Linked DNA regions of Homo sapiens. The protein of the gene in region 1 purifies or fractionates together with the protein of each later gene. This does not show direct contact. Each region holds a gene or a part of one and is shown on either strand. Other genes may lie near its edges.

What was found.
Region 2: the proteins of CCDC14 (region 1) and WDR90 purify together in Homo sapiens (affinity purification with mass spectrometry; one large-scale study listed by BioGRID and IntAct). This does not show direct contact.
Region 3: the proteins of CCDC14 (region 1) and CCDC61 purify together in Homo sapiens (affinity purification with mass spectrometry; one large-scale study listed by BioGRID and IntAct). This does not show direct contact.
Region 4: the proteins of CCDC14 (region 1) and OFD1 purify together in Homo sapiens (affinity purification with mass spectrometry; one large-scale study listed by BioGRID and IntAct). This does not show direct contact.
Region 5: the proteins of CCDC14 (region 1) and TBC1D31 purify together in Homo sapiens (affinity purification with mass spectrometry, with the first as the bait; one large-scale study listed by BioGRID). This does not show direct contact.
Region 6: the proteins of CCDC14 (region 1) and CCDC18 purify together in Homo sapiens (affinity purification with mass spectrometry; one large-scale study listed by BioGRID and IntAct). This does not show direct contact.
Region 7: the proteins of CCDC14 (region 1) and TTLL5 purify together in Homo sapiens (affinity purification with mass spectrometry; one large-scale study listed by BioGRID and IntAct). This does not show direct contact.

Annotation. Positions count from the first base shown.
Region 1 is NC_000003.12:123,933,293-123,937,415, forward strand, and holds part of CCDC14 (coiled-coil domain-containing protein 14), read right to left. Parts: intron 464-4,123; coding exon 381-463; intron 1-380. UniProt on the Homo sapiens protein: Negatively regulates centriole duplication. Negatively regulates CEP63 and CDK2 centrosomal localization.
Region 2 is NC_000016.10:647,639-652,506, forward strand, and holds the start of WDR90 (WD repeat-containing protein 90), read left to right. Parts: upstream 1-1,726; 5' UTR 1,727-1,778; coding exon 1,779-1,788; intron 1,789-2,124; coding exon 2,125-2,216; intron 2,217-2,352; coding exon 2,353-2,529; intron 2,530-2,615; coding exon 2,616-2,724; intron 2,725-2,900; coding exon 2,901-3,071; intron 3,072-3,356; coding exon 3,357-3,465; intron 3,466-3,560; coding exon 3,561-3,628; intron 3,629-4,005; coding exon 4,006-4,109; intron 4,110-4,185; coding exon of another isoform or gene 4,186-4,188; coding exon 4,189-4,401; intron 4,402-4,828; coding exon 4,829-4,868. Other genes in the region: MCRIP2 (MAPK regulated corepressor interacting protein 2), read left to right, coding at 145-246, 482-552. UniProt on the Homo sapiens protein: Microtubule-binding protein that plays a crucial role in ensuring inner core protein localization within the centriole core, as well as in maintaining the microtubule wall integrity and the overall centriole roundness and stability.
Region 3 is NC_000019.10:46,008,442-46,012,564, reverse strand, and holds part of CCDC61 (centrosomal protein CCDC61), read right to left. Parts: intron 1-4,123. UniProt on the Homo sapiens protein: Microtubule-binding centrosomal protein required for centriole cohesion, independently of the centrosome-associated protein/CEP250 and rootletin/CROCC linker.
Region 4 is NC_000023.11:13,740,735-13,744,857, forward strand, and holds part of OFD1 (centriole and centriolar satellite protein OFD1), read left to right. Parts: intron 1-3,680; coding exon 3,681-3,785; intron 3,786-4,123. UniProt on the Homo sapiens protein: Component of the centrioles controlling mother and daughter centrioles length. Recruits to the centriole IFT88 and centriole distal appendage-specific proteins including CEP164. Involved in the biogenesis of the cilium, a centriole-associated function.
Region 5 is NC_000008.11:123,071,120-123,076,002, forward strand, and holds the start of TBC1D31 (TBC1 domain family member 31), read left to right. Parts: upstream 1-1,587; 5' UTR 1,588-1,650; coding exon 1,651-1,727; intron 1,728-2,129; exon of another isoform or gene 2,130-2,265; coding exon of another isoform or gene 2,266-2,312; intron 2,313-4,883. UniProt on the Homo sapiens protein: Molecular adapter which is involved in cilium biogenesis. Part of a functional complex including OFD1 a centriolar protein involved in cilium assembly.
Region 6 is NC_000001.11:93,214,958-93,219,080, reverse strand, and holds part of CCDC18 (coiled-coil domain-containing protein 18), read right to left. Parts: coding exon 4,115-4,123; intron 2,446-4,114; coding exon 2,335-2,445; intron 1,344-2,334; coding exon 1,212-1,343; intron 579-1,211; coding exon of another isoform or gene 552-578; exon of another isoform or gene 429-551; intron 1-428.
Region 7 is NC_000014.9:75,667,352-75,671,474, reverse strand, and holds part of TTLL5 (tubulin polyglutamylase TTLL5), read right to left. Parts: intron 2,060-4,123; coding exon 1,953-2,059; intron 1-1,952. UniProt on the Homo sapiens protein: Polyglutamylase which modifies tubulin, generating polyglutamate side chains on the gamma-carboxyl group of specific glutamate residues within the C-terminal tail of tubulin.

The DNA.
Region 1 (4,123 bases):
TATTTTGATAGACAAAAGTGTCCATTATATGTTAAGTGAATAAACAGAAGCTGTGGAAAAGTATGTACAGTGTGATCTCATTTTTAAAAAAGTACATATATAGTTCTATTTGTGCCTGGCACACAGTAGGTATTCAGTAAGTGTTAAATAAATCAATTATATATGAAGAGAAGATATGTAAAAGGAAACACACTCCTGTATTTCAAAACAAACAAACAAAAAAAGGTGTATATTATTGGGAAGTGACAGCATCTTTTATTTTCTTATGTTTCTACAATATTTTAAATTTATCCCCTCAAAGTAATTACAAAAGCTCAATTCTTTATCAACATTTCCGGAGCCACAAATAATTTATCAATCCTTAAAGTTCTTTTACCTACATTCAAGGTTGCAATCCACAGCACCAGATGGTTTTTGAGTTTTCTGTTGTTCTCTGAGTTGCTGGTTCAAAATTCTCAACTGCCTAAAGAAATAATGAAGAACTATGAATGCAAGCATACCAAGCCAATTTAATAGTATACATGTGATAGCCTATCAAAAAAGATAAAACATAAACCCACTAAGACAGCAGAAGTCCATCTCATCCCCAAAAGACAAAAACTAAATAAACAAAACAAAAACAAAACCATACTACTATTATTATGAGGCCTGAGATAATTTTTAAGGTTGCCTGAAACAACATAAAACCTCCCCTCATGGGCCAGGCGCGGTGGCTCACGCCTGTAATCCCAGCACTTTGGGAGGTCGAGGTGGGCGGATCACCTGAGGTCAGGAGTTTGAGACTAGCCTGGCCAACATGGCGAAACCCCATCTCTACTAAAAATACAAAAATTAGCTGGGCGTAGTGGCGCGTGCCTGTAATCCCAGCTACTTGGGAGGCTGAGGCAGGAGAATTGCTTGAACCTGGGAGGTGGAGGTTGCAGTGAGTGAGATCGCACCACTGCATTCCAGCCTGGCGAAAGAGTGAGACTCTGCCTCAAAAAAAAAAAAAAAAAAAAAAAAACCCTCATGAGGAAAGTGTTAATTTCTCTTTTTTGTCTCTTCAGTGATTTGTTGTTTTTTTTCTATTTCTTTCCTTTTCTATCTGCTCATGCTGTTTCTCATCGTCTTTCTGTGTATCTTCATCACTGTAGTTAATCATCTACTTTTTAAAAGATTTGTCATTACTATCAACTAGAATACCTACAAGCACTGACTGCTATCAGACATCTATCTGCCTGATGTTTGTCATATGCTGAAACACAAATCTATGCTTCTAATAATTTTATTAGATGGAAAAGTTAATGGTCTTAAGTAACGAGAATATTAACAGGCTACAAATCTGCCCTGTTACAATGAACTTCACAATATGTATCTGCTTCACAAATAGAAACATATGCAAGTGTTTTCTTTACTTCTAAGAAGTTATCGCTTATGGGGACAAAAGTTACCTCTATTATCTTTCCAGAATTACTTACCTAAAAATATTTTGCCTTAAAATATTTATTTTTGGTACTAACTCTAAAATGATAGTACCCTACCTCACATCACTCACATATATTAATTTCGAGTTGATTAAAGTGATAAAATATGTAAACAAAACCCAACTATACAAGTTTTAGGGGGAAATCTACATAATCTTGAAGTCGGGAAGGCATTTCTAAGTGAAACTCAATATCCAGCAAGCATCAAGGAAAAGAACGAAAGATTTAACCATAGCAAAATTTGAAACCTGTAGAATTAAAAGCCTGAAAGAAAATACCTGCACATATGTTATAGACAAGGGGTCCATAACATTTAAAGAACTCCTACAAATCAGTAAGGAAGGCAACCTAGTAAAAAGTGACAAAGGATAAGAATGAGCAGTTCACCTAAGAAATAGAAATGGCCTATAAGCATATGATAAAAATGCTCATCTTCACTAACATGAAGAATTGCAAATTTAAAAGAAGGTACTTTTTGGCCATAGAATTGACAAAAATAAAAAGAAATAACATTTTCTGATGATAGTACAGGAAATGAATTAACTCAATTCATGTGATTATATCAGTATAACCATTCTGGATGGCAGTTTGAAATGTCCAACAAAATGTAAAATGTTCATAATCTCTGACAAAATTATTCTACTTCTAGGTTATCAAGCATCAGAAACAGTTTTACATGTGCAAAAGCATCTCCCACCTTGTAGATACATACAAGGATGTTCACAACAGCAATTATTTAATAGTGCCAAGTTGGAAACAACTTAAAATGCTACATAAATTATGGTACATCCATATATGAAATACTAATACACAGATAATAAAAAAAGCGAGAGGTCCACTTGTACTGACGTGAAAAGATCTCTGAGACACATTATGAAGTGAAAGCAGCAAGCTGCAGAACAACAGTATAATGTGAGCTTATTTTTGTTTTAATAAAATTCTGATTTTCTTTAAAGGTTTCCCCTTTACAACAGAAGCTTTCCTCGATAATCCTTTTGTATGTCCCTGGTCAGATTCTTCTCTTCCCAAACGTAACCAATCTAAACTTCTAATAATTCACTGCAAGCCTCTCATTCCTACCCTCCTCTTCTCAATTGTATACTTTCCTTTTTTCACTAAAAATAATGTGGTTTGGGGACAAACACAGTCATCCTTTGGTCCCAGGGTGTATCCATATGTGTATTAGCCCTCATTTTTTCCATCTAGTCTGATGAGTAGCCTTATCTGTGCCCTGGATCCCATTCTCCTCCTAGACCATCAAGGACTCTGCTCCTATCCCACTCCCTTTATCTTCTGTATCTGCAGTTTCTCCCTCTTTGCCAGTTCATGTGCCTAAGCCAAGAAACATATTAAAACTCTTCCCATATTTTAAAAAAATTCCCTCCAACCTAACTGTACAAGTAGCTACTTTCATTCCTCTCATTCCCTGCTTTCAGGGCTAGGCTTTTAAAAAAATATTCTATTTAAAATGATACATGATAAAAACAGAAAAAAGGATATTTTAAAAATTGATGTTACACATGCTATTTTAAGATATGTACGAAATTTAAATATACTGGATTTTAAAAAAGGAAAAGAACTGCTGCTACTTAGGCAAATATTTCTTTTATTCAAGTCATTCTTTTTTTTTTAGACAGCTTGAGATAAAACTGACATACTATAAACTACATAAATTTAAAGTGTGTCATTTTATTTTCTGCCATATGATGTAGTAAAACCACCATCACAATTAAGATATCCATCAGCAGCCATAAAAAAGAATGAGATCATGTTTTTTTGCAAGAACATGAAGGGAACTGGAGGCTATCATCCTTAGTAAACTAACGCAGAAACAAAAGCAAATACCACATTCTCACTTATAAGTGGGAGCTAAATGATAAGAACTTATTAACACAAAGAAGGAAACAACAGACACTGGGGTCTGGATGGTAGGAGGGAGGGGAAGGTGGTAGGAGGGAGAAAAGCAGAAAAGATAACTATTGTGTACTGGGCTTAATACCTGGGTGATGTAATAACATGTATAACAAACCTCCTGTGACACGTGTTTACCTATGTAACAAACCTTCACGTGTACCCTCAAAGCTAAAAATTTTTCAAAAAACATATTCATCACCCCTAAAGTTTCCTCATAGCCCTTTTCATAACTCTCTCCTCCCAGATAAGCACTTATTTATAGTTTGCATATTCTAGAATTTTATATAAATGGAATTATGGAATATATACTCTTTTAGCCTGGCTTCACTCAACATAGTAATTTTGGGATTCATCCATGCTGTTGCATGTATCAATAGTTCTTACCCTTTTATTGTTGAGTAGTATTCTACTGTATGGATATAGCACTATTTGTTTATCCATTCACCTATTGATAGACATTTGGGTTGTTTCCTATGAACACTCATCAACAAGTTTCTGTGTGGACACATGCTTTGGCTTCTCTTAAATATCTAGGAGTGGACTGGCTGGATCATATGTTAGATATATGTTTAATTTCTAAGAAACTGCCAAACTTTTTTTCCAAAGTGTTCAAATTATTTTACATTCCCATCAGTTAATTGTGAAATCCTTCACATCCCAACATTTATTAATTTTGAATTTTAGCCATTCTAATGGGTATGCAGTGGTATTTTGTCATGGTTTTAATTTTCACTTTCCTAATCATT
Region 2 (4,868 bases), on another chromosome or scaffold:
CATGGCTGTGCTTTTCCTTGGCACTCTGCCCTTGTGTCCTGTGACCAGCCCTGTGTGGGGCTGGAGTCCAGGGTGACCATCAGGCCCTGGGTGGGCGATGGGGTGCCTGGGACCTGGCTCAGCCCGACTGCCCTCCTCCCACAGCCTGGCAGCAGGTGCAACAGCAGCTGGATGGTGGCCCAGCCGGTGAGGGCGGGCCAAGGCCTGTGCAGTACGTGGAGAGGACCCCCAATCCCCGGCTGCAGAGTGAGCCCCCCAACCCTGTCCCCCCAGGAGAGACCCCCCAGCCCCTCTGATCCTGACCCAGGCCCTGCCAGGTTCCCACCCCAGGGGATGAGGGAGGGGACTCTTGTGCAGAAACCCCTTCTTCCCAGCGCCTGCCGCACTCGGAGTCCGGGTGAGCGGCTTGTGGTTAGCTCCAGGGGAGACTTGCCGGCTGGCCTGGGAGGCAGCATCACTGCCCAGCCTTCTCTGCCCACAGACTTTGTGCCCATTGACCTAGACGAGTGGTGGGCGCAGCAGTTCCTGGCGAGAATCACCAGCTGTTCCTAGTGGCTGCTGGGAGGGGGCGCTGCTACACGGCCGACCTGTCGCCAGGAGAGAAGCATGGCGCCCTGCCCACCCACTGCGCCTGGCTGGGTGCCGGCCACACCTGAAGTGCCAGCATTTGGACTTTTGCACCTTTTTTTCCCTTGGCCCGGCTGTCCCAACCAAGCTGCCATGGCCAAGGGCCGAACCCGTCTGACCTCAGCCCTGCTCACTGTGCCCAGGGACCAGCGACCAGCCCCTGGGGCTGGCAGGGAGGAGCTCCAGGCTAATAAAGTGGAGAAACTGTCTTTTTGGAGTGTCTTTGACTTGGGAGGGTGTAGGGGGGGTTCTCATGTCCAGTTCCAGTCCACAGCCTGGGACGCCAGGCCCAGCACAAACTCCCCTTGTAGCCCTGTTCCTTCAAGCCGTTAGCTTCTCACCCAGCTGCCCTGCGACAGGTAGGAGGGACGTTAGCCAGCCCACCTTGCTTGGAAGTCTGGGGACCCCACTTGGTTCCTCTTTCCTCTCCCGTTGGCGTTGACTGGGACCGAAGCCGAGACTCAAGGCCTAAAGACATTAAATGGCCCCGGAGTGCAGTCCACCACCCCCCACTACCGGCACTGGGGCTGTGTCTCAGAACGCCAGGTCCCATTCTGAATCCGCCGGGCCCGGCCGCAGGACACTGGGCGAAGGAGTACGTGGGGAACCTGATAGGACGAACGTGGGAACCAGCCCCTCCGCGGGCGCCCGCACTACCTTCCCTGATGGACGGGGATGACCCAGCCCACCTGAGTCAGGACCCAGGGTACCCAGGTGTGGAGCAGGGGCCTCTGGACGGCGAGAGAGCGGCAGGGTGAGGCCCGGCCGTCCGTGGCATGGCCAGGCCTCAGCGCGACCTCGCCTCGCTGCTTGCATGCGGCGGGAGCCCCGGCCGGCCGAGGCGCTGACAGGTGGGCGCGGCGGAGGATCCGCAACCGGCGCGGGCTTCGAAGCCGGTCGGGCTAACAGGGGGCTGCCTTGGGAGGCCCGCGGGGCAAAGGGCAGCGGGATTCGCGGCTGGAGCAACCCTGGAGGCCGCTGACGTGAGCGGGGTACTCCCACCGGGGAGGTCACGTGGCCAGGGCGCCGCCATGACGGCGGAAGTAATGGCGGAAGTGGCACCGTTGCCAGGCAGCCGTTGCCTGGCGTCGCGGGGCGTACTCTGCGCTGGGCGCGCGGAGGCCTAGGCGGGAAGCTCGAGCGGCGGCGCCATGGCCCGAGGTAGCGCGCGGCTGGCGGGGGTCCCGAGGATCCCGGGTTCCGGGGTTCCGGGGTCCAGGGTCGGCGGCCGGAGCGCTCAGGGCCCCCGCCTAGGCCCTGAGGCCAGAGTCCCCGCTCAGGCAGGGTCCCGTCTGCCGGGCGCCCACCCTCGGGCTCCCGGAGCTTGGCTTCCCTCGGGCGCCCGGCCTCGTCCCGCCAGCCTAGCTGGCGTTGGCGTCGCCGGGGAAGGCGCGGAGAGCCCCGGCTCCTGCCTGGTCCCCGAGGCCCGGCCCAGCCCCGCAGTGGCCCCGGCTCGCGTGGCCGAGTCCCCTGACGCCCGGCGCCCGCTCCCCGCAGCGTGGCAGCACCCGTTCCTCAACGTCTTCAGACACTTCCGGGTGGACGAGTGGAAGCGCTCCGCCAAGCAGGGGGACGTGGCCGTGGTCACGGTAGGCGGCCGGGGGCTCGCCCGGAGCCCACACCCCTGCCCTGCCCCCAGGAGAGCTGCCCCGCCCCCGAGGGCCCCCTCGCCCCCGCTGCACTTCTTCTGGGTGCTGTCGGTGATGCGGGCTCCCGCTTCTCCAGGACAAGACCCTGAAGGGCGCCGTGTATCGCATTCGGGGCTCAGTCTCTGCCGCCAACTACATCCAGCTCCCTAAGAGCAGCACCCAGTCTCTGGGGCTGACGGGACGATACCTGTATGTGCTCTTTCGGCCCCTGCCCAGCAAGCACTTCGTCATCCACCTCGATGTGTCCTCCAAGGTACGGAGCCCGCGGCTGGGGGCTGCGTGGGAGCCCCGGCACCCCTGCGGCCCCTGTCTCCTCACGGCCCTGCTCCGTCCCCACAGGACAACCAAGTCATCCGTGTGTCTTTCTCCAACCTCTTCAAGGAGTTTAAGTCTACGGCCACGTGGCTCCAGTTTCCCTTGGTCCTGGAGGCCAGGACACCTCAGAGAGGTGACACCAAGATGGGGTGTGGATGATCCAGGACAGGTGGCTGGAGGGAGTTGGTGCAGGCCCAGTGAGGCTCCTCTGCGGCCTGGAGGACAACCTGGCGGGGGCACAAGCTCACAGTTCTGGGAGTCGCGGGCTGTCAGGAGGGTGGGCGCTGACCCTGAGTGCCCATCCTGCAGATCTGGTGGGTTTGGCCCCCTCCGGAGCCCGCTGGACCTGCCTGCAGCTCGATCTGCAGGACGTTCTCCTGGTCTACCTGAACCGGTGCTACGGCCATCTCAAGAGCATCAGGCTGTGCGCCAGCCTGCTGGTCAGGAACCTGTACACCAGTGACCTGTGCTTTGAGCCTGGTGAGGGCCGCACCTGCACTCCCCACTCCATATCTCACCCATGCTCTCAGCCCTGGAGAGGCCCAAGTCCAGGGTGCTTGGGAAAATACAGTGCTCGAGCTGTGCTGTCTCTGAGCTCTGGCCAGAACCCATCCCAGAGGCAGCCCTGGGGTCAGAACCCATCCCAGAGGCAGCCCTGGGGTGGGGCGGTGGCTGGGCTGGTGGCGTGGCAGTGCCTTGGCGGGTGCCCTGTGTTCAGGTGGCTAAACAGCCTCCCTTGACCTGGAACAACCCTGCTCCTTGTAGCCATCTCTGGGGCCCAGTGGGCAAAGCTGCCCGTGACTCCTATGCCTCGGGAAATGGCATTCCCTGTGCCCAAGGGAGAGAGCTGGCATGACCGCTACATCCACGTCCGGTGAGTGGTTCTGCTTCTTTCGAGGGAGGCCTCGGTGGTGGGAGGGTGGGTGGCCCTTGGGCCCCCAGACACTGACTCTCCCTCTGCCTGCCAAGGTTTCCAAGTGAGAGCTTGAAAGTGCCTTCCAAGCCGATTGAGAAGAGCTGTTCCCCTCCTGAGGCAGGTGGGTCTGGGGGGTCAGCGGGGACCCAGGTTAAGGCCTGTAGGGTGCGTGGGGCTCGGTAGGAGAGGGCAGGGCTGGGAAAGGACCCAGTGGTGTGCTGGCTGCAGCTGGTGCAGGGACCCAGGGAAGCCCGTAGGTTGTCCGAGTTCCCAGAACCACGAGGGTGGGAAGTCTGTGTGAGGGGTACCCGGGGGCCCCAAGCTTTCTAGCTGGAAGAGGAGACTTTCAGGGCCTAGGGTGGAAGTGGGGATACTGGCTGTGGGTCCTGCAGAGCCGGTGAGGCTGGGCCACTTGCTGCTGCCCTCCCCAGGCGTCACCCTCACCAGGCATCTGCACAGCTGGCCCCTGGGTCACTGGGGTTCTTTGCTCTGTTCTAGTCCTCCTGGGGCCGGGGCCACAGCCTCTCCCTTGCCCGGTGGCCTCCAGCAAACCTGTGCGGTTCAGTGTGTCTCCAGTGGTCCAGACGCCCAGCCCCACAGCCGTGAGTACCCCCTTCGCCCTATGAGATGGGGTTGGGGTGTGATGGCCCAGGACGCTGATGGGCACTTGTCCCCCAGCAGTCCGGCCGGGCCGCCTTGGCACCCAGGCCCTTCCCGGAGGTCAGCCTGTCCCAAGAGCGCTCAGACGCCTCCAACGCGGATGGCCCCGGTTTCCATAGCCTTGAGCCCTGGGCCCAGCTGGAGGCCTCTGACATCCACACGGCTGCTGCCGGCACCCACGTGTTGACTCACGAGTCGGCTGAGGTGCCCGTGGCCCGCACCGGCTCCTGCGAAGTGAGTGCCCATCCCACAGCAGGCGGGGCCTGGTGAGGTGTGGGCTGGGGCAGCTGGTAGCCCGCCCCGAGATGCATTCAGAACGGATGTGCCTCCAACGGTCTCCTCTTGTTCAGCCTCCTGGCAAGGAGCAGAGCTGGCGGGAGGCGGCTTTGGGGAAGAATCTCTGTCCACAAAGAGTAAGGCAGGGCTTCTGCTCACCCCCAATGCGTCAGCCCCAGGTGGTCTGTGGGGGACCCTCGAAGGTCTGGCAGTGCAACTGGAGTCCCAGCTTCCACCTTACCACAGCCAGCAGGAGCCACCCAGGACCAGGGCAGTCTTCTTGAGAGGCAGGACCCAGCTAGGGGTTGGCGGGGCTCGGAGTTGGTCGGGCATTCTGGGGACCTGGCTGAGCCTCCCAGGACTTTGATGCGAATGGCTGTTTCAGGGCTTCCTCCCAGACCCAGTCCTGAGGCTCAAGGGCGTCA
Region 3 (4,123 bases), on another chromosome or scaffold:
AGTGATTCTCCTGTCTCAGCCTCCCGAGTAGCTGGGGCTACAGGCATGCGCCACCCTGCCCAGCTAAATTTTTGTATTTTTAGTAGAGACAGGGTTTCATCATGTTGGCCAGGCTGGTCTTGAACTCCTGACCTCAGGTGTTCCACCCGCCTCGGCCTCCCAAAGTGCTGGGATTATAGGCGTGAGCCACTGAGCCCAGCCTCAATTTTTTAACCTGGGTAGTTGTTACATGTACGCTGGCTTTATGATAATTTGTGAAACCGTACATTTATATTTTATACTCTTTGGAGTATATTATTTTTCACAACAAGAAAGTTAAGTAGTGGAAGCAGTGGGACTCTTGGGCAGGAGGGACGGGTCCCATCCCAGAGATTCAGGTGTAAGTGGTGTGTCTGGAGGAGTCAGGGCCTGCCCTGGAACTCCTCACTGCTCACAAAATTTTTAAAAAAAGAAAAATAGGCCAGGCACGGTGGCTTACACCTGTAATTCCAACACTCTGGGAGTCTGAGACAGGTGGATCACTTGAGACAGGTCGAGAGTTCGAGATCAGCCTGGCCAACACGGTGAAACCCCGTCTCTACTAAAAATGCAAAAATCAGCCGGGTGTGGTGGCACACACCTGTAATCCCAGCTGCTCAGGAGGCTGAGGCAGGAGAATCGCTTGAACCCAGGAGGCAGAGGTTGCAGTGAGCAGAGATCACGCCATTGCACTCCAGCCTGGGTGACAGTGCGAGACTCGGTCTCAAAAAAAGAAAAAGAAATGGTGAATGTACAGGGCAGCCAGGGCACTGAGATTTTTCAAAGCTCCCGGGCAATTTGAGTGCATATCCAGAGTGAACCACTGCATTGGTTGAAAGGCCGAAGAGAACTTTATAAAAGAGGGAGCCAGCTCTCAACAGCTGAAATCATCAGTCTCAACACCACCAAAGGAGGCATCTTGCCAAAACCTACCCCACATGTGATTAAACCTATATAGGGTTAGCCACCACTTCACTGCAAGTACAGGGGACAGAGAAGGACATTAAACACACCATGGCGATATAATCAGCAAAATCTATTTTTCATTTTTCCATCTGAGTATGCTTGCTAGGGAAAAATTCAGCAAAATCTAGACTGCAAAACTCTACAGGACAAATAACCTGATTTCTTCCACAAATAAGTAGCATGAAAAGTGGAGAGGGGGATATAAATTAAAAGAGATTTAAGAAATACATCAGCCAAGCTCAGTGGCTCGTGCCTGTAATCTCAGCACTTTGGGGGGCCAAGGCAGGTGGATGGCTTGAATTCAGAAGTTCAAGATCAGCCTGGGCAACACAGGCAAACCCTGTCTCTATAAAAAAATATGAAAATTAGCTGGGCATGATGGCATGTGCCTGTAGTCCCAGCTACTCAGGAAGCTGAGGTGGGAGAATCGCTTGAGCCCAGGAGGTAAGGACACAGCGAGCCAAGATCGTACCACCACACTCCAGCCTGGGCAACAGAGCAAGACTGAAAAAAAAAAAAAGAAAGAAAGAAAAGAAAAGAAAGACCTCGACAAACTGCAATGTGCAGCCGTATTTAGATACAGGACGAATTCAAACCACTTGCAAAAAAGACATTTGAGAGGTGATCAGAGAAGTGTAAGTGTGAACGCATACGCAGTGGGTTTCAGATGACATCCTGGAATTTTTGTGAATTTTGTTGGATGTGATGGCAGCACTTATATCCTTATGTGTTAAAGATACACACTGATGCTTTTACAGAGGAGACACGAAGACTGGGATTTGCTACAGGGCAGGGGGTGGCAGTACATCAAACAAGATGGGCAAACGTGGGTAACTGTTGAAGCTGGGGGACAAGTACGTGCAAATTATACTACTGTTTACTTTTGTGGTGCTGGAATTTTTCCTAATAAATCCTTCTTAAAATCCGTGGTTCCCCACACTCTCTAACAAGGAGCTTTCCTTTCTATTCAGCCCCTGCCCATCTGACTTCTCCCCTCCTCTCCTCCTGCCTCCCTCTCCCACAGGCTCCAGCCAGATGCAGTTCTCACCTCCCAGAACCTTCTCTCCCTCTTCTCCTGGCAAGAACGACTCCACTCATCCGGGAAGCCTACCTGCCCCTGACGTTCTCCGCTCTCCCAGCCCTCTATACCTTTCCTTCCTAGCACCAGCCCTGGCAGACCTGGCATGTAGAGGAGTGTCCGTTTCCCATGTGGATCCCACCTTTCTGGGGGCAGAGCCTCCACCTGTCTGGTTCACTGCACAGGACCCCAGGCTGCGTGGCCGGGCGCCCTGCATTCAACTCTATTCCACTTGTTAACAAGCTGGGTGGCCCTGGGCAGTTTCACTTCACATCTCTGAGCCTCAGGCCATCTTTTCTCATCTGTGAAGAGGGACGATAATAAGAATGCCCGCCTGTTAGGCTGTAAGAATCTATCCACAGTGCTTAGACCATGTCTAGCATAATAAACATTAACTAGCGTCAGGCAGTGTGCCTGGCACAGTATGAACTCCATAAATGTTGGCTCAATGAATGAATAAATCTCAGAACCTTCCCAAACTCCCTAATTCCTGGCTGGGAAGAGGAAGATAAGAAGCCACTGAGCAGCGGTGGGATCTCAAGGCTCCTGTGGTTGGTTCCAAAGGGTGGAGGGCGCCCCCTTGTGGCCATCTTGGGAAACACACACCCAGAAACACAAACCTAGAAACACACACACACAGCCTGAGACAGAGCAAACGCGCGCGCACACACACACACACACACACATACACACACACACAGCCTGAGAGCAGATCCTGAGGATAAATTTTGGCCTCCCCACTGCGGCCTTCCTCGGCCCAGCCGTACACAGGCGAGCTCCTCCAAAGACCGGCGGGGTTCCCCAGCCCCATGAGCTCCCATAAGGACTGGTCCTCCGGGTCAGCACTTAGCGCTCTGTCCTGGGCTTGCAGCCACCAACAGTGCAAACAGCTGGGGAAACAACAGAGGCTCGGCGCTGGCTGCCTGGATCTAAGGTCCAGCCTAGCCATATTACCCACTGTGTGACCTGCGCCAAGTTCCCTAACTTCTCTGGGCCTCTGTCAAACGGTGATAATAGCAGTGCCTACCTTGTAGGGTGGCTGTGAGGATAAAATGAATTTAATCATAAAGCACAGAGCAGCCCTGGCATACAGTTAAATGTTCAATAAACATTAGTTACTGGTAACATTATTACTAAAAATATTATTAGTCCTCCCCAACGAGCCAGGCCTCTTCCCGGTAGCGATCAAGCCCCAGATTCGTCTCCCCAACAGAACCAAGCACAAGGCAGGCATGAATATATATGCCAAAGGCCTTTGCTTCTTTCACTTCATTCATTCCCTTGTTCTCACCGCATTCCCACCTAACACAAGGACTTTGCCCAGGCTGTTCCCTCTGCCTACAACACTTCCCCAGCCCCTGGGCCTGACCCACCCTACACCCCAGTGGAGTCCTGTGACAGCCTCCCACAGCACAGGCTCCCTTTCCTGCCCTACTCATCTCCATCTGTAATGATATACTCAAGTGGTTATATACTTAGCACCCATCTCCCCCAGGGCTGGGCACTACGTGAGTGGCAGGGAGGGGCTAGCACAAAAGGTGCACCCCATGAAGGTGGATTCGCCTACATAGAGCTCGACCTCCCCCCAACCTTTGCACATGCTGCTCCCTTTGCCAAGAACACCCCTCCCGTACCAGGCAGGGTCAGGTACCCCACCCAGAGCCTTCACTGTCTGCAAACACATCTGCCTCCCTCCCTGGACTCAGAGTCCCAGGAGGGCAGTGCCAAGATAGTCTTGGTCACCACTATGTCCCCAGCACCACCCAGCACAAAGGTACAGAAGAGGGGCTCAGAGGCCGGGCGCAGTGGCTCATGCCTGTAATCCCAGCACTTTGGGAGGCCAACGCGGGCAGATCACTTGAGGCCAGGAGTTTGAGATCAGCCTGGCCAACATGGCAAAACCCCTTCTCTACTAAAAATACAAAAATTAGCCGGACATGGTGGCGCGTGCCTGTAATCCCAGCTACTTGGGAGGCTGAGACAGGAGAATCGCTTGAACCCGGGAGAAGGAAGCTGCAGTGAGCCAAGATCGCACCACTGCACTCCAGCCTGGGCAACAGA
Region 4 (4,123 bases), on another chromosome or scaffold:
GTGAGCCAAGATAGCGCCACTGCACTCCAGCCTGGGTGACAGAGCTGGACTCCATCTCAAAAAAAAAAAAAAAATCTATGTAGTTACTATAGATACATTATCCTTAAAAGTAGTTTTTCCATGGCCGGGCGCAGTGGCTCACGCCTGTAATCCCAGCACTTTGGGAGGCTGAGGCGGGCGGATCACGAGGTCGGGAGAGCAAGACCATCCTGGCCAACATGGTGAAACCCCGTCTCTACTAAAATACAAAAAAAAGTTAGCCAGGCCTGGTGGCGTGCACCTGTAGTCCCAGCTATTTGGGAGGCTGAGGCAGGGGAATCGCTTGAACCCAGGAGGCAGAGGTTACAGTGAGCCAAGATCACGCCACTGCGCTCCAGCCTAGCGACAGAGCAAGACTCCGTCTCAAAAAAAAAAAAATAGTTTTTACACAGTCTCTTTAAATGCATCTGGTTCAGAAAGACATCTGGCCGACAGCCCTTACCAGCTTCACCTAGCATCCCAGTAAAATTTCTGGAAGCCAGAAAAACTATGAGTAGCAGATAGGTCAGGCATCCTAGTGCCAAAATTTGGATAGAACTCTTAGCTAACAAAATAGCTCCTGGTAAGATAAAATTTTTTTAAAAATTGGTGTCTTCTAATTAAGTAACAGAAAACATGTAGGAAGATATTGTGTACTTAACCGTTGTCTGTCCCCTGACTCAGACCTATGGTCTTATCCTACCATATCTATGCTCAGGGGGTGCTAAGCTGTTGAATGGCCTTGGTACTTTTCCTCCTAGATTCTAGTCACCCATTCTTCCCACTGCTAATTTTCCTTTCAGAGATAATGATATCTGTTATGCGTGTCTGTGTGAAGAGACCACCAAACAGGCTTTGTGTGAGGAACAAGGCTGTTTATTCACTTGGGTGCAAGTGGGTTGAGTCCGAAAAGAGAGTCAGTGAAGGGAGATAGGAGAGGGGCAGCTTTATAGGGCTTGAGTAGGCAGTGGAAAGTTACAGTTAAAGGTGGTTATTTATTGTTAGCAGGGGAGGGGGTCCCAAGGTGCATGGTGGAGAGATCTTGGGACTCATTGTCCAGAAGAAGAATGTCACAAGGTCGATTGATCAGTTGGGGCAGGGCAGAACAAGTCATAATGGTGGAATGTCGTAAGGTTGGTCAGTCAGTTAAGGCAGGAGCTGTTTCACTTCTGTGGTTTTTTAGCTGGCTCCTGCAGGCCATCTGGACGTATATATGCAGGTTACGGGGGTTACAATGGCTGAGCTTCGGCTCAGAGGCCTGACAATATCCAGAAAATGATGTGCACAAAATTTGGATGAGGGAAGAAAATTTGGACATCGGCCCTTTGCTTTTTGGAAGTAAAAATTCTTATCTGCAATTGGCAAAAGAATAAGACATATACATCAATGGGGACAGAATTAGGAAGTCCAGAAATACATCCACACAAATATAGTCAATTGATTTTTTTTTTAACAAAGGTGCAAAGGCAATTCAATAGAGGAAAGATAGTCTTTTCAACAAGTGGTGCTGTAACAGTTGGATATTCATATGCGCAAAAATGAACCTAGACACAGATCTTATTTATTATACCTTACACAAAAACTAACTCAAAATGAACCATAGACCTAAATGTAAAATGCAAAACTATAAAACTTCCAGATGAGAACAGTAGAAAGTCTGTGATCTTGGGTTTCGTGATGAGATGTAACACCAAGAGCAAGATACATGAAAGAAAAAAGTAGATCAGTTAGACTTTATTAAAATTAAAAACATCTCTGTGAAAGACACTGTTCTTTTTGTTTTGTTTTTGAGACGGAGTTTCACTCTGCCACCCAGGCTGGAGTGCAGTGGCGTGACCTCGGCTCACTGCAGCCTCTGCCTCCTGGGTTCAAGTGATTCTCCTGTCTCAGCCTCCTGAGTAGCTGGAACTACAGGCGCCTGCCACCACGCCTGGCTAATTTTTTTGTGTTTTCAATAGAGATGGGGTTCACCATGTTGATCAGGCTGGTCTCGATCCCCTGACCTCAGGTGATCGCCTGCCTCAGCCTCCCAGAGTGCTGGGATGACAAGCGTGAGCCACTGTACCCTGCCAAAAGACGCTGTTAAGAGAATGAAAGACCCAGTGTCGAAACCCATAGAGCTTTACGTCATCAAGAGTGAACCTTAATGTTTGCAAATTTAGGTCAGGTGATCCCAGGATGGTATGCAGACTGTGACAAAATCTAATCCCCTTCCTGAAGGGAGTGGGGGTGGGGGAAAAGGTGCTGAGCTAACTACTGTTTTTAGTTCCAAGAAACTAAACATTTCTTAAGTAATTTATGCTTGTGGTTTAAAACAGTTTCAAACTATTCAGAAGGATATAAAGTGAAAGCAAAGTAGCAGTTTCTGCCCATGTTCTCTAATCTCACGCTCCACTGATAACTAGAATTAACAGTTTCACTCCACTGATAACTAGAATTAACAGTTTCTTGTTTATCTTCTAGAATTGTTTGAGGTTAAAACTATGTATTTGTAATTAAAACACAATCAATTGGGATTATATCGTAGATACTGTATGCAATTTGCTTTTTTTAATCCACCAATGTATCTTTCTGTAGCAGTATAGACTAATTATTTTTAAATAATGTATTTAACCCCCTATTGATGGAGATCTGGTTGTTTTATTGTTTGCTTTTTGCCATTACAGGTAACCTATGTGCAGTGTGCACCCTTTGTGCCCTTGTGAAAGTATACCTGTGTAAATTCATAGAAGTGGAATGACTAGATTAAAGGGCACATGCATTTCGAATATATATAAGCACTGACAAATTTCTCTTCCAAGTGAATGAGTATAGCTATATATCCACTCCCTTGCCAACACTTAGCATTATACAAGTTTTAATCTTAGCAGTGTTATAGGGAAAATAATGGTTTCTCTGTTGTATTAATTTGCATTTATGATTTTGTTCATGTTTATTCAGCATCTAAAAATTGTGTTCATCTTTGACAATGTAGTTTTTTCTGCAAACTACCCATGTTTTTCCCCATTTTTCTGATTTTTTTTTTTTAAACTGATTTGTAAGAGTTCTTTGATGTTATGAAAATGTCATCACTTTAGTCTTGGTTATGCCTCCATATTATTGCAACTATTTTTCCCAGTGTGTTATTTTTTTATTTTATGCCATATGTAAGTTTTCAGTTTTTATGTAGTTAGATTGATAAATATTTCTCCTTATTCCTTCCAGGTTCTGTATCATGCTTGGGAAGGCCTTTTCTCAGATTTATTAAAAGATATGACTGGGCACAGTGGCTCATGCTTGTGATCCCAGCACTTTGGGAGGCCCAGGCAGGAGGATTGCTTGAGGCCATGAGTTTGAGACTAGCCTGGGCAACATAGCAAGACCCTGTTTATACAAAAAGTAAAATTAGCTGGGCGTGGTGGGTGGTGGTGTGCACCTCTAGTCCCAGCTACTTGGGAGACTGATGTAGGAGGATTGCTTGAGCCCAGGAGGTCGAGGCCGCAGTGAGCCATGATTACACCACTGCACTCCAGCCTGGGTGACAGAGCAAGACTTTTGTCTCTAAAAAAAAGGAAAGATATATAATGTAAAAAATGATAATGTCCTAAAACTAAGATTGTAAAAACAGTGACTGAGCAGTGGTTGAAAGTTCTGAAACAAAACTGTATGCATATGTTTTTTAGGTTTTCTTATGCATTTTTTAAAAGAATTGGCAGAATATCATCAAGCTAAAGAGAGTTGTAATATGGAAACTCAGACAAGTTCGACATTTAACAGAGATTCTCTGGGTAATTATAGCCTTCTTTCTTAATTTCAGTTCTGCTGTTTTCATTTTGAATGAAGGAAATTATCTGATTTACCATATTGTGTGATTGCTCCTTGAACTGGAGGGATGCAGCCGGCAGGCAACAAGGGAATTCATTTCTGGAATCATCTTGGGGGACCAGGAAGTGCTCTCCAGTGTCATTCCCTAGCCTCATGAATGCCAGGGCTACACTGGCCAAATCATGCAGGGATTCAAAGGCCCATATTCTTCCTTGTTTGTTGAGTTTGACTTCTCTTAACTGGGAGGTTCTTCCTCGTGTCTTGTCTAACTTTACAGCCACCCAGTTAGAAGATTATAAAC
Region 5 (4,883 bases), on another chromosome or scaffold:
AAAATAAGAGCTGCAGTTGCTTCCTCTGCAATAGGTCATTACAAGTTGTCTGATCTCTCAGAGCCACCCCTTGATAACAACATAAAGTTTAAAAACCTGCATTAGTATTTTTTTTGAGAATTTGCTTTTCTGATCAAGAGTTTGAACTTTTCAAATACCACGACCATATAATTTTTTTAACATCATTTTTCTGTTGTAGAACAACATAGAGACTAGGAATGGAAAGATTTAAGGTTTCCTTGTCTGCAAAAGTGGATAATATTAGTACTTACCTGTAACAGGTTGATTGGTGGCCCCCCAAAATATATGTCAACATACTAATCCCAAAATCCGTGACTGTTACCTTACTTGGAAAAAGGGTCTTTGCAGATGTAATCAAGTTAAGGATTTTGAGATGAAAAGATCATCCTGTATTCCTGTATTATTCATATGGACCCAATGACAAGTTTCCTTATAAGAGAAAAACAGAGGGAGATTTGAAACAGACAGAAGAGGAAAAGATACATCCAGGAGGAGAAAGACGTGTGAAGATGGAAGCGGAGAATGGAGCGATGCGATCACAAGCAGAGAACGCCAGCAACTCCCAGAAACTGGAATAGACAAGTAAGGGAATCTTGCTTAGAGCCTGAAAGGAGGCTGCAGACACTTTGATTTCCGATGTATGGCCTCAAGAACTTCCCAAGAATACATTTCTGTTTTTTTATGTCACCAAGTTTGTGGTAATTTGTGAGGGCAGCCTCAGGAAATTAATGCACAACCTCATAGAGCACTAAAAATGGAGATAATTAGTACTACCTAACTTGTAAATTTGCTACGAGGATTAATTGAGTTGATATATTCGGTATAGTAGAAAAGTGCCCCATACCTAGTAAGCGCTCCGGAGGCACTAAGTGAATTTTTATCAAAGGAACGCTAAAGTCGAGGCAGCCAGTTGTTGATATTATTGCTTTTCTGGACCATGATTGGTGGACTGGACATCATAATGCTGGAAGGCCTGTCAGATTACGAAACTGAAGAAACGAAACAAAACCATGAGGATGGTGAAAAGGTCAGGAAGAATGAACTATTTCATCTGTAAGTTTCATTTGAGCCCGAACGTTCTATGAAAGGAACCCATCAGTTCTCAATGTATTTGTCTCCTTGCTTCTCTGCACTTGTTTCCTTGCTTCTCTTAGTTATTTCTATACAATTCCTTAATCCCTAAAAGCAATTTAGAACGGAATGCAGGGACCACAGGAGAAAATGAGTTTTATTGCCTCTGATGGGAGCCTAAAACCCCACGAGGCTCCCAAAGGGCGGAATTCCCAAGCCAATTCCTCGCGTCTATGATCCACCTGCAAAAAACTACGATTCCCAGAAGGCTTTGGGTCCGGGGGCGGGAAGACTGAGCTCAGAAAGAGGTGGACTCTAAGAGAAGGTCTTTGGTCGATTACATTGTCCAGAGAGGGAGTGGCCGCTTGGGCGGATTTTGGGAGGGATCAGCCTTCCAATTGGTTGTTATTAGAAAGGGGGTTGGTACGGCCTGCTGGTGCTGGACCTAGGCCGCCGCGGCCGGAGCTCAAATTTCCCGGGCCGGGAGCGCTGGGCCTGCCGGGAAGGCGCTGGGACGGTTACCCAGCGGGCCGCCGGCGGTCGTGGGCAAGCTTCGCCATGCAGAGCACTGACCTAGGCAACAAGGAGAGCGGCAAGATATGGCACCGCAAGCCGTCCCCGGCCACGCGGGACGGGTAAAGGCCGTGGCGGGAGGGCGCGGGCTGTGGAGGGGATGGAGACCGGCGAGGAGGGGACGCCGGGCGTCAGGCAGCGTTCCGGGTTCTGGCTCTGACCTTGCCCCGCATCCCTGGGTTGGATGACCTGCGGTGGAACAGATGGCTCCGGACGCCAGGGTCCGCAGAGATCCCCTTCTGAGTTCTGGGAGCGGGGGTCTGGTCCGGGACAGCGCGGAGCAGGAGGAGGCCGGTGGTTCTCAGACCTGGGAACTTGCGGCTTTTGCTGTGTACCGGGACTCTCCTGCTTTTATGATCACGGTATCCCGCTAGTGTCCCTGGCACGTAGTAGGTGCTCAGTGAGTATTTAACAGTTGCAGCTGGAGCAGAACTCCAGGAGGAGATGCGGGGTGGAAGAGCAGGACAATTCTGCCTCTTCCAAAGGCTGCAGTTTATCCATCCTTAAATCCTTGGATGTGTTTAGACGCACAAGCATTCATCAACTATTTGTTGAGCTCCTACTGTGTGCCAAGCACGCCTCTAAGCGCTGGGGACGGCGATGGAACAAAACACACTTCCGGTTCTCTGGAGTTTACATATCGGCGTGTATGTAGGGGCTGGGGCGTTCATTATGCATTGCTGGGGGGCTTCTAGTACGGCCAGCGCTGCTTTTCATTCTGTTCCCAGTTACCTGTCCTGTTTGAGGCTCAGCCTGTCTTGTTTCCCTGGAAGCCTTTGCTACAAAGCGGTGCCATTTGGATTTCGATTTCTGCACGCAGAGTGATCTTATTGCTCCTAATTCCCTAGGATTTCACGGAAATTGCTTGAGTTCCTGTTTCAGTGTGTTTCTTGTTCTAGCAGTGATTTTTCTTTTCTTTGAGACGGAGTCTTGCTCTGTCGCCTGGGCTGGGGTGCAGTGGCGCGACCTCGGCTCACTGCATCCTCCACCTCCCGAGTTAAAGCGATTCTCTTGCCTCAGCCTCCTAAGTAGCTGGGATTACTGGCGCGCGCCACTACGCCCGGCTAATTTTTGTATTTTTAGTAGAGACGGGGTTTCACCATGTTGGCCAGGCTGGTCTTGAACTCCTGGCCTCAGGTGATCCGCCTGTCTCAGTCTCCCAACGTGCAGGGATTACAGGCCTGAGCCACCGCGCCCGGCCTCTAGTGATTTTTCTATTGATCCTTTGGTTGCTTCTTGACAAATCAGAATTTTTTTTTTCTCTTGAGACAGAGTCTTGCTCTGTTGCCCAGGGTCGGATGCAGTGGCGCGATCTCGGCTCACTGCAACCTCCGCCTCCCGGGTTCAAGCGATTCTCCTGCCGCAGCCTCCTGAGTAGCTGGGATTACAGGCGCACCACTCCCGGCTAATTTTTTGTATTTTTAGTAGAGACGGACCGTGTTAGCCAGGATGGTCTTGATCTCCTGATGTCGTGATCCACCCACCTTGGCCTCCCGAAGTACTGGGATTACAGGCGTAAGCCACCGCGCCTGGCCGACAAATCAGTTTTAAGTGCCTACTCTGTATATCCAAAGTGCGATGCGAGACGTTTTACCAGCAGCTTGTTTGGTTCCTGGTTACTGTCAGGCCTCTTTATCAATGCCGCTGCCTCAACTACATTGAATAAAAAATTTTCTCTAAAGTGGGGATTCCTCAAGTTTTTCATTTTCAAATTCTGAGTTTGTGTGAATACCACTCCCACCTCTGGTATTCTCTAAACATTCTAAAAGTTATAGCCCACTCGCCTTCTCTTTCTTGATGATACAAAATATCTAGATATATGTGCAAGATTCAAAAAGTGAAAGAAATGGGTTGATTATCCAAATGTCTTGTTTGCTTCTTCCACTAAAGCATAGCTTATCTTTGTGTTCGTTAAAACCCATTGTTCATGCTGTTTAGACGGGCAGAGAGCACTGACTTGGAGTCAGATGTATTTTGTTGAAGTAAATGTCCGTTTACCAACTCTGTGACCTTGGGGAAGTTAATCACTAAGGCTGTCAGTGGGGAGAATCAGATTTACCAGACAGGTTGTCTTACACATTTGGTGCTCAGTAAATATTTGATATTCTTCTTGTGTTTGAGAACTGAGGAACTCTGTCAGGCAATCTGTGAGAATCTGAAAGGAAGTTGCTCTAAAATAAATTTTTTACGTGTGATTTATATGAAAAATCGGAGGGGCAGAATGTCACTATTGTGATTACATCTACATGGTAGGATTATAATTGAGTATTTGTTTCTTAGTGTATTTCTATATTTTTCATATTTTGAACAATGATTGTGTAATTTTGTAGCCAGAACATGTAATAAGTGTTCTAGAAAATAAGACTGGAGGAAAAAGTTGTTTGCTCTGAGTTTAGTTGCCATGAAACATTTTGATATTGCTTGTCATTTCTGTATGTTTATTTTTGTGTTTTTAATTCCTTGGGGACTAGATAAAAATAAGCATTGTTAAGAATTTTGCTATTTCCTTTAGTGAGTCTAAAAAGCCTTATGTTTAGATACACATGGAGAAAATGTTTAATCCACTTAATTCAATTTAGTATACTTTAATGAAATTATAATGAAGATAGATGTTTCTAATATAAAATCCAAAAACTAGGCAAGGTGCAGTGGCTCACGCCTGTAATTCCAGCACTTTGGGAGGCCAAGGTGGGAGGATCACGAGGTCAAAAGTTTGAGACCAGCCTGGCCAACATGGTGAAACCTTGTCTCTACTAAAAATACAAAAAATTAGCTGGGCATGGTAGCGTGCACCTGTAATCCCAGCTACTCAGGAGGCTGAGGCAGGAGAATCACTTGAACCCAGGAGGTGGAGATTGCAGTGAGCCGAGATTGCACCACTGCACTCTAGCCTGGGTGACAGAGCGAGACTCCATCTCAAAAAAAAAAATAAAACAAAATCCAAAAATTTATGAAAAATCAATTAAGATAAAATTTTCATGATTAAAAACTATTGTTGCAATAAAGAATGGGATTATTCTGATCTTTGTGACGAGAATATACGCACATATATTATTTTAAGGAGTTATTTTGTGCTGTAAGTTAATTTTATAAATTTTCTTTCAACAGATACAGGGTATATAATCCTTCTCTCAAAAAGGGTAACTTTAAACACATGTATTCTTGTCTTTCCTGTTATGAAAATAGTATGTAATCATTAAATAACATGTCTAAAAGAT
Region 6 (4,123 bases), on another chromosome or scaffold:
TCAGCAAAGATCCCCTGAAACAAGTGACACCAAGTCATTTACTGCAAATAAGGGATGATTACACAGATTCAATAATAGGGTTAGACTGAAAAATATTAAAATTATTGGAGAAGCTGTGTCTGCTGATGAAGCAGCTGCTGTCACATTTCCAGCAGAGATGAAGAAGCTAAGGAGAAAAGATACCATCCAAAGCAAGACTTCAATTGCAGCGAAACTAGGCTGTTCTCAAAGATGACTCACAGAACCTACATTCATAAAAGTGCAAAGGAGGCTGGGCGCAGTGGCTCACACCTCTGCGTGAGCCAGGCACATTGGGAGGCTGAGCCAGGCAGATCACGAGGTCAGGAGTTTGACATCAGCCTGACCAACATGGTGAAACCCCATCTCTACTAAAAATACAAAAATTAGCCAGGCTTGGTGGCGCGCACCTGTAATCCCAGCTACTCAGGAGGCTGAGGCAGGAGAATCACTTGAACCCAGAAGGCGGAGACTGCAGTGAGCTGAGATCACACCATTGCACTCCAGCCTGGCCGACAGAGCGAGACTCTATCTCAAAAAAAAAAAGTGCAAAGGAGGCACTAGGGCATAAGAGAGAGAACACACTTTTATGAGAACAAGTTTTCACATAACTTTTATGACAGTATTTTGTTACAATTGGTCGATTTTATTAGAATTCTTGCTAATCTCTTACTGTGTCTAATTTATAAATTAAGCTTTATAATAGGTATGTATGTATAGGAAAAAATATATAAGGTTCAGTACTATCTGTGGTTTCAGGCATTCACTGAAGGTCTTGGAATGTCTCTCCCATGGATAAGCAGGGACTACTGTATCTATTTTTTTTTACTGTGTCTTGCATTTTTGGTCTCAAATTTTCTTTTCTACTTTTAACCCAAGGTCAAGAGTGCTTCTCTTATTCTGCTTTTTCCTCTCAATCAATCTTCAAGCAACTGATATTTTTAGGGAAATGGAGTCTACAGAATTACTCTTACTTTAATAATGTCAAAAATAATGATTACAGCTGAAACAGAAGGCATACTATATTCTGTTAAAGCACTGAAAAATTATTCAGAAAGATTGGGATTCTAATTACAGCTCTTGCCACTAACTTTTGTGTATCTTTGTGTCCTCGTCTACAAAATAAAAAATGCTGGGGCTAGTAATGTTTAAGTTTCTTTTCAGCACTCATATTCTAAATATGTATTACTTACTCTTTCAATCTGCTTTTCCATTTCTTTATGCTGTTCCAAGTGAATTTTCTTTGCTTTTTCAAAGGCTAAACAAATTTTCTCATGCTCTGTATTAATATTGGTTTCTAGACTCCTTATCTTTTCATTCTTTTCCTAGAAACACAAAACACTTTAAAGGAGTATAATTGATTTGGGAGGCCAAGGCAGGCAGATCGCTTGAATCCAGGAGTTCAAGACTAGCCTGGGAAACACGGCAAGACCCCGTCTCTATGAAAAATACAAAAAATTAGCTAAGTAGATGTGGTGGCATGCGCCTGTGGTCATAGCTTCTGGGGACGCTCAGGGGGAAGCCTGGGAGGACACGGCTGTAGTGAGCCATGATTGTGCCACTGCACTGCAGCCTGAACCACAGAGTGAGACTTTGTCTCAAAAAAAAAGTATAATTGAAAAGCAGTTTTACATAAAAGTACATTAGTCAACCATTAAATATGTCATACTCCATTCTTTAAAGAACCACAGTAGTTTATACTTCAAACTTTAACAAAATGGCTAAAAATACTTTATCAAGACGAGAAGATTTAAACTATTTTAAATATCAAGAAGCATATCAAAGAACTACCATTATCTTCAATCCTATTAGGATAAAAATGAGAAAACGGCCGGGTGCGGTGGCTCACGCCTGTAATCCCAACACTTTGGAAGGCTGAGGCGGGTGGATCACGAGGTCAGGAGATGAGACCATCCTGGCTAACACGGTGAAACCTGTCTCTACTGAAAATACAAAAAAAATTAGCCAGGCGTGGTGGCGGGCGCCTGTAGTCCCAGCTACTCGGGAGGCTGAGGCAGGAGAATGGCGTGAACCCAGGAGGCAGAGCTTGCAGTGAGCCGAGATCACACCACTGCACTCCAGCCTGGGCGACGGAGTGAGACTCTGTCTCAAAAAAAAAAAAAAAAAGAGAAAACTTGGATAACTTGCCATATAAGCCTATTAACTTAAAAATATAAACAAGAAATGATCAGAAGAGTTTAGTAGAATTTATACTTTCCTATATATTTTATAATAATGATGCTAAAACAAATGTGCTGTCACAAATTAAGTGCCTAAAAATCACAGTAAATTTGTAGGAACAAAGATAAGTTTTACCATAAGCTCCTGTTCTAGTTCTGCATTTTTTGCAGCAATAGAGGAATAAGCAACTATCTTTTCTTCCAGCTGTTTCTCAAGAGTTAAAAGTTGAGAACATTTCTTTGTCATCTGAAAACACATTGAAATAAATGTAAAATTATTTTTTAAAGGTAATGATTTTGCATTCTAAGATCAAACACCTGCTCCTCTTTCAAAGTTCAAATACATTGTGTCTAGGTAAATTGGGCAAACTTACAGTTATAAACATTTAGGATGCAAAGTGAATAACTTTTTAACCCACATAATTATAAGTATTTTACAAAATAAGTGACAATTAAGAAGAAAAACAAATACTGAAAACAAAGGATCACTTCTTCTATCTATGTAAAACATAAGTCATTTAATTCAGACCCCTATATCCAAAAAGGACAATACCCTAATCTATTTTTACGTAGCTGTTAAAGACTGAAATAAGTACAATAAAATGTTATCAGCAGTTATTTCTGGTGGTAGAATTATCAATGGTTCATTTTCTTCTTTTTCCCCTTTTATATTAACAAGACTGTGCTATTTTTGTAATTTAAAAAACTTATTAATCCCAGTATTTGGCAATTTCCTAAGTAAACTGGTAGCCATAGTTATAAACTGTCTAAATCTCCATCTTCATTATTAACATAAGTTCCTATCTTATAGTTCTTTTTCCTCAGCCTTGGCTATAGACTTTAAGCTGAGAAAGCAGGTATTTAAAAAGTGTACCTATAGATGACTGCAGCCTCTGGTTTGAAGATCGAGTATAAGATATACACATGTGGTCCTGGTCCACAATTACCTAATGAGGCACCCTTATCCTGTCCTCAGTGAAAATGAAGACAAGATATTCACAAAACACTCATTATCCCCTTTTCAGAATGTAATTCCTTGCGTAGTTGTTTCAGGTTTACATGCAGTTGTTTAAAAATACAGACTCTTTAAACAGCAGAAATACACAAAAAATAAAAATACAGATTCCGGCTAGGTGTGGTGGCTCACACCAGTAATCCCAGCATTTTGGGATACTGAGGTGGGGATCACCTGAAACCAGGAGTTCGAGGCAAGCCTGGGCAACACAGCGACTGTCTCTACAAATAAAAAATAAAAAAACTTAGCTGGACATAGTGACACATGCCTGCAGTCTCAAATACTTGGAAGACTGAGGCAGGAGAATGGCTTGAGCCTAGAAGTTCAAAGCTACAGTGAGCTATGATCACACCACCACACTCCAGACTGGGCAACAGAGCAAGACCCTGTCTCTAAGAAAAAAAAAAAAAAAGAAAAAGAAAAGAAAAAAGCAGACTCTTGTGCCCATATATACTGAATCAGAAATTGCTGGAACAGGACCCAGAAATATGCATATTAAACAGGCTTCCTAGGTGGTTTGGGGTTTGCTAAAATTTGAAATCCTTTATTATCACTCCTTTTCTTCCAACAGCATAATCCAAAGTCTTTATTTATAAATGTATATTAACCATATTAACTTATACTATGGAAGAAATAATAGGCTGCAATGCAATATTATTTCCACCAAATTTGAGACTTTTACCCACTACAGTTTTTCCTACTTTTAATAACTTTAACTTTTAATAAGTTAAAATACAAAGGTTTCCAAATATAATTTTAAAACAATTTATAACTTATGTGGTACCATTTTTTAAAAACTTTAAATCTGGATGTAAACATATAATTTTTATAAAACCCTAAAATAATACCTTTTGTTCTAGTTCAAAAATTAACATATATACCAAGCTAATTCCAAGCTTACTTCACTTTC
Region 7 (4,123 bases), on another chromosome or scaffold:
TTATAGATTCAATGCACTCCCTATCAACATCCCAACAGCCATTTTTGAAGAAAGGGGAAAAGCTGATCCTAACATTCATATGGAATTGCAAGGGACCCTGAATGGCCAGAGATCTTGAAAAAGAACTATATTAGAGGACTTACAATCCGCAATTTCAAAACTTAATACAAAGGTACGGTAATCAAGAGTATGTTACTACCATAAGGATAAATGTATAGTTCAATGAAATATTAAAAGTCCATAAGTAAACCCATACACCTATGGTCTACTGATTTTCAACAATAGTGCCAAGACCATCCAGTGGGGAAAAGAATAGTCTCTTCAACTAATTTTGCTGAGACAACTGGATATCCAAATGCAAAAGAATGAAGGTGAACCCTTACATAACCCTACATGAAAAATTTAACTCAAAATGGATCAAAGACTATTGAGCCCTAAATATAAGAGCTTAAACCATAAAACTCTTAGAAAAAAGCACAGGGATCATGACCTTGGGTTAGGCAATGGTTTCTTAGATATGACACAAAGAATATAAGCAACAAAAGAAAAATTAGATAAACTGGATGTCATCAAAACAAAAAACTTTTGCTCATGAAAGAACACTAACAAGAAAATGAAAGACAATTCACAGAGTAAGAATATTTGTAAATCATATATCTTGTCTAATATCCATAACATATAAAACTCTTATAATTCAACAACAATAAAGAAAACCCAATTTTTAAAATGTACAAAGGACTTGAATAGGCCTTTCTCCAAAGAAAATACACAAATGGCCAAAAAGTACATAAAAAGATATTCAAATTACTCATTAGGGAAATGCAAATCAAAACCACAGCCAGATACCACATCACATTCACTGGTATGGCTATGATCTAAGAAACAGAAAATATCAAATGTTAGTGAGGATGTGGAGAAACTGGAACCCCTATACGTTGTTGACGGGAATGTAAAACGGTACAGCTGCTATGGAAAACAGTTTGACACGGAATAAGTTAAACACAGAATTACCATATGGCCTAGCAATTCCATTCCTAGGTATACCCCAAAGAACTGAAGATTAAGTGTCCAAACGACTTTTCCGTGAACATTCATAGCAGCACAATTCACAACAGACAAAAGGTGGAAAAAGGCCAGACACAGTGGATTATGCATGTAACCAAGGCAGGATTGCTTAAGGCCAGGAGTTTGAGACCAACATAGGCAACACAGTGAGATCCTGTATCTAAAAAATAAATAAATTTTAAAAACAAAATTAAAAAAAAAGGTGGAAACAAAAAAAATGTACATCAACTGATGACTGGATAAACAAAATGTGGTGTATCATTGGAATGCATTCATTAGCATATACAATGGAATGTTATTCAGCTATAAAAAGGAATAAAGGACTGATATATACTCCAACATGGATGAACCTCAAAAACATTATGCTAAGTGAAAAGAAGCCTGCCAAAAAAGGTCACATATCACATGACTCCATTTATATAAAACATCCAGAATATGGGAATCTATAAAAACAGAAAATAGATGAGTGGTTGCCAGGGACTGGTGGTATGGGGGCTGGGGATATCTGCTTAATGGGTATTGGCTGTACTTTGGAGATGATGAAAATGTTCTGGAACTAAACAGTGGTGACGGCTGCACAACATTGTGAATGTACTAAACAACAACGACTTGTACACTCTAAAATGGTTAAAATGGTAAATTTTGTTAGGTGTATTTTACCACAATTAAAAAAAAAACACATGTACACAATATTCTTGAAAAAAAATCAGAGGAAAAACATAAGCAGAAAACAATTTAAGAAATTATAATGTTTGAAGTATAACAACTCAATTGATTTTTCTCATGGCCAAGGCCCTTTCCCTATATATATGTCATATCAACTTCTTTAAGACAAGGACGTCTGGGCCATGCCCAGCTCCGTCCTCTGTGGGAGAGGTTATACGCACCTCCAATTACTCTAATATTGTTGTCCTTTGTAAGAATAGCGTCGGCATGGAATACCAAAACTGGAATTCTCCTGCAGCCTCCAGTCCACATGATGCATGGATGATCCCTATAACGACAAAAAAGCCTTCATTAATTTACAGCTCAAAACCTGAACTAACTGCTGATGCAGATTACTATGGTTTGTTGCTTAGCAAGTTTCCCCTTCCTTCTGGAATACAAATCCCAAATATCCTGTGGGAAATCACATCTCCCATTCTTAGCTGTGTGTTTAAAATTAACTCTATCCCTGGTTCAGGGATGGGCCTTGATTGGTTTCAGCCAATCAAGATACTTCATCATCCAGTATAATTAGTGGTTCAGAGATAGGCACATAAACCAATTGGAGCCCATAAGTTTAAGGAGACATGTTCTGGACTCTGTGAGAAAGCAATGGTTTCTTTCTCTTCTATAATGGCTACAGATGATAGCCTGTCTTCCTCTTGATGGTATAGGATGAGAATGAGAAGTCTGGAAGGGCAACAACCATTTTGTGACCTTGAAAGAAGAGCCTGTAGCTGTTGGTGAAGGAGAAAGTCAGCAGGAGGTTGACTGAAGAGATAAAGTGGGATTTTCAGAATCAAGATATGCCTGAATATGAGTGAAAGTATTCTCTTTATTACTTAGGACCATTTGGATTATGTTGTAATCCTTTGCACACATAAAGAATCCTAACTGATGAGTTCACAATAATTTACATACTCCTTTTACACGCTATAGTCCATTTTCAAGCCAATTTGATGATGCATCCTAAGACTCTGAACTAGGAACTCTAAATTAATACAAGTATCCCAATTAAAATCACATATTTTAAAGGAAGCCCATGCTAAATGGAACAATATATATTTTCCTCCAGTATAAAACCACAGGGGAGAAAAAGACCTCTGACTTTATTCTCTTTCCCTATCCTCAGGAAATCTCAGCTTAATTTTAGGCTGATGAATATTTACTCACAGATCAGAAAAACCTTCACCCTCATTAGGGCAGGGAGGTAGGAAGAGAAATAAAATTAAATGAACTGAGTCCCTACTATGTGCCAGGATTTAAACTAAGAGCTCTCATATCTCACTTAATCCCCCTGCCCATACTATGAACTGCAGGAAAACTGTCTCAGAAAGGTTAAGTAACCTGCCTAAGGTCATATAGCTGGTTAAGTAAGGGATGAGGTATTTGAACCTAACATCTGTATTCTTTCTACTGTTTGCCTCCCTAATCGCATTTCAGCAAAGTTGTATATATTGGATACCTTGAATTCAATTATTTGGGAACTTAAACTGATAATTCCTTAAATGCAATACAATCCACTTGGCCAAGATTCACTCGACTCTTAAAAACTCACATAACCACATCCCTTAACAAAGGTCATACCACAAATCTCAGGGCCAAGTCAGCCCCTCCCAATCCAACTTTAAAAAGATCCACACTCGGGCCGGACACGGTGGCTCACGCCTGTAATCCCAGCACTTTGGGAGGCCGAGGCAGACAGATCACGAGGTCAAGAGATCGAGACCATCCTGGCCAACATGGTGAAACCCCGTCTCTACTAAAAATACAAAAATTAGCTGGGTGTGGTGGCCCGCACCTGTAGTCCCAGCTACTCGGGAGGCTGAGGCAGAAGAATCAGTTGAACCTGGGAGGCGGAGGTTGCAGTGAACCAAGATCGTGCCACTACACTCCAGCCTGGCAACAGAGCAAGACTCCGTCTCAATAAAAAAAAAAAAAAAAAAAAAAAAACATAAAAAGATCCACACTCTGAATGCACAGTCTGTAAGGCTCCCAATCTTAGGAGTGAGGCAGTCTTTAGACTTGGGACAAGCTGCCAACTGCTTTCTAGTGAAGAAAGCAAAGAACAGCATACCTAGTTTATTCCCCGTTTTCTAGAAATGGCATGTGGATGCTTATTGTTCTTGTTCTTTGACTTGGTGACAGTACCCACTTGTGAGAAACGGTGCTGATAGGGTACCTTTTTTAGCAGGAAGGATTTTTTTGTGGCTTGCTTGCTTCTTCATCTTTAACACCTGTAAAATGTGGGCATGAAGCCAGGTGATTCCTATGATCTCTTCCAACCTTAATTTTTCCACTATATTTCTAAATCAGCAAGTACAGAAAAAAACAGGCAGCCTAAACTACAAAG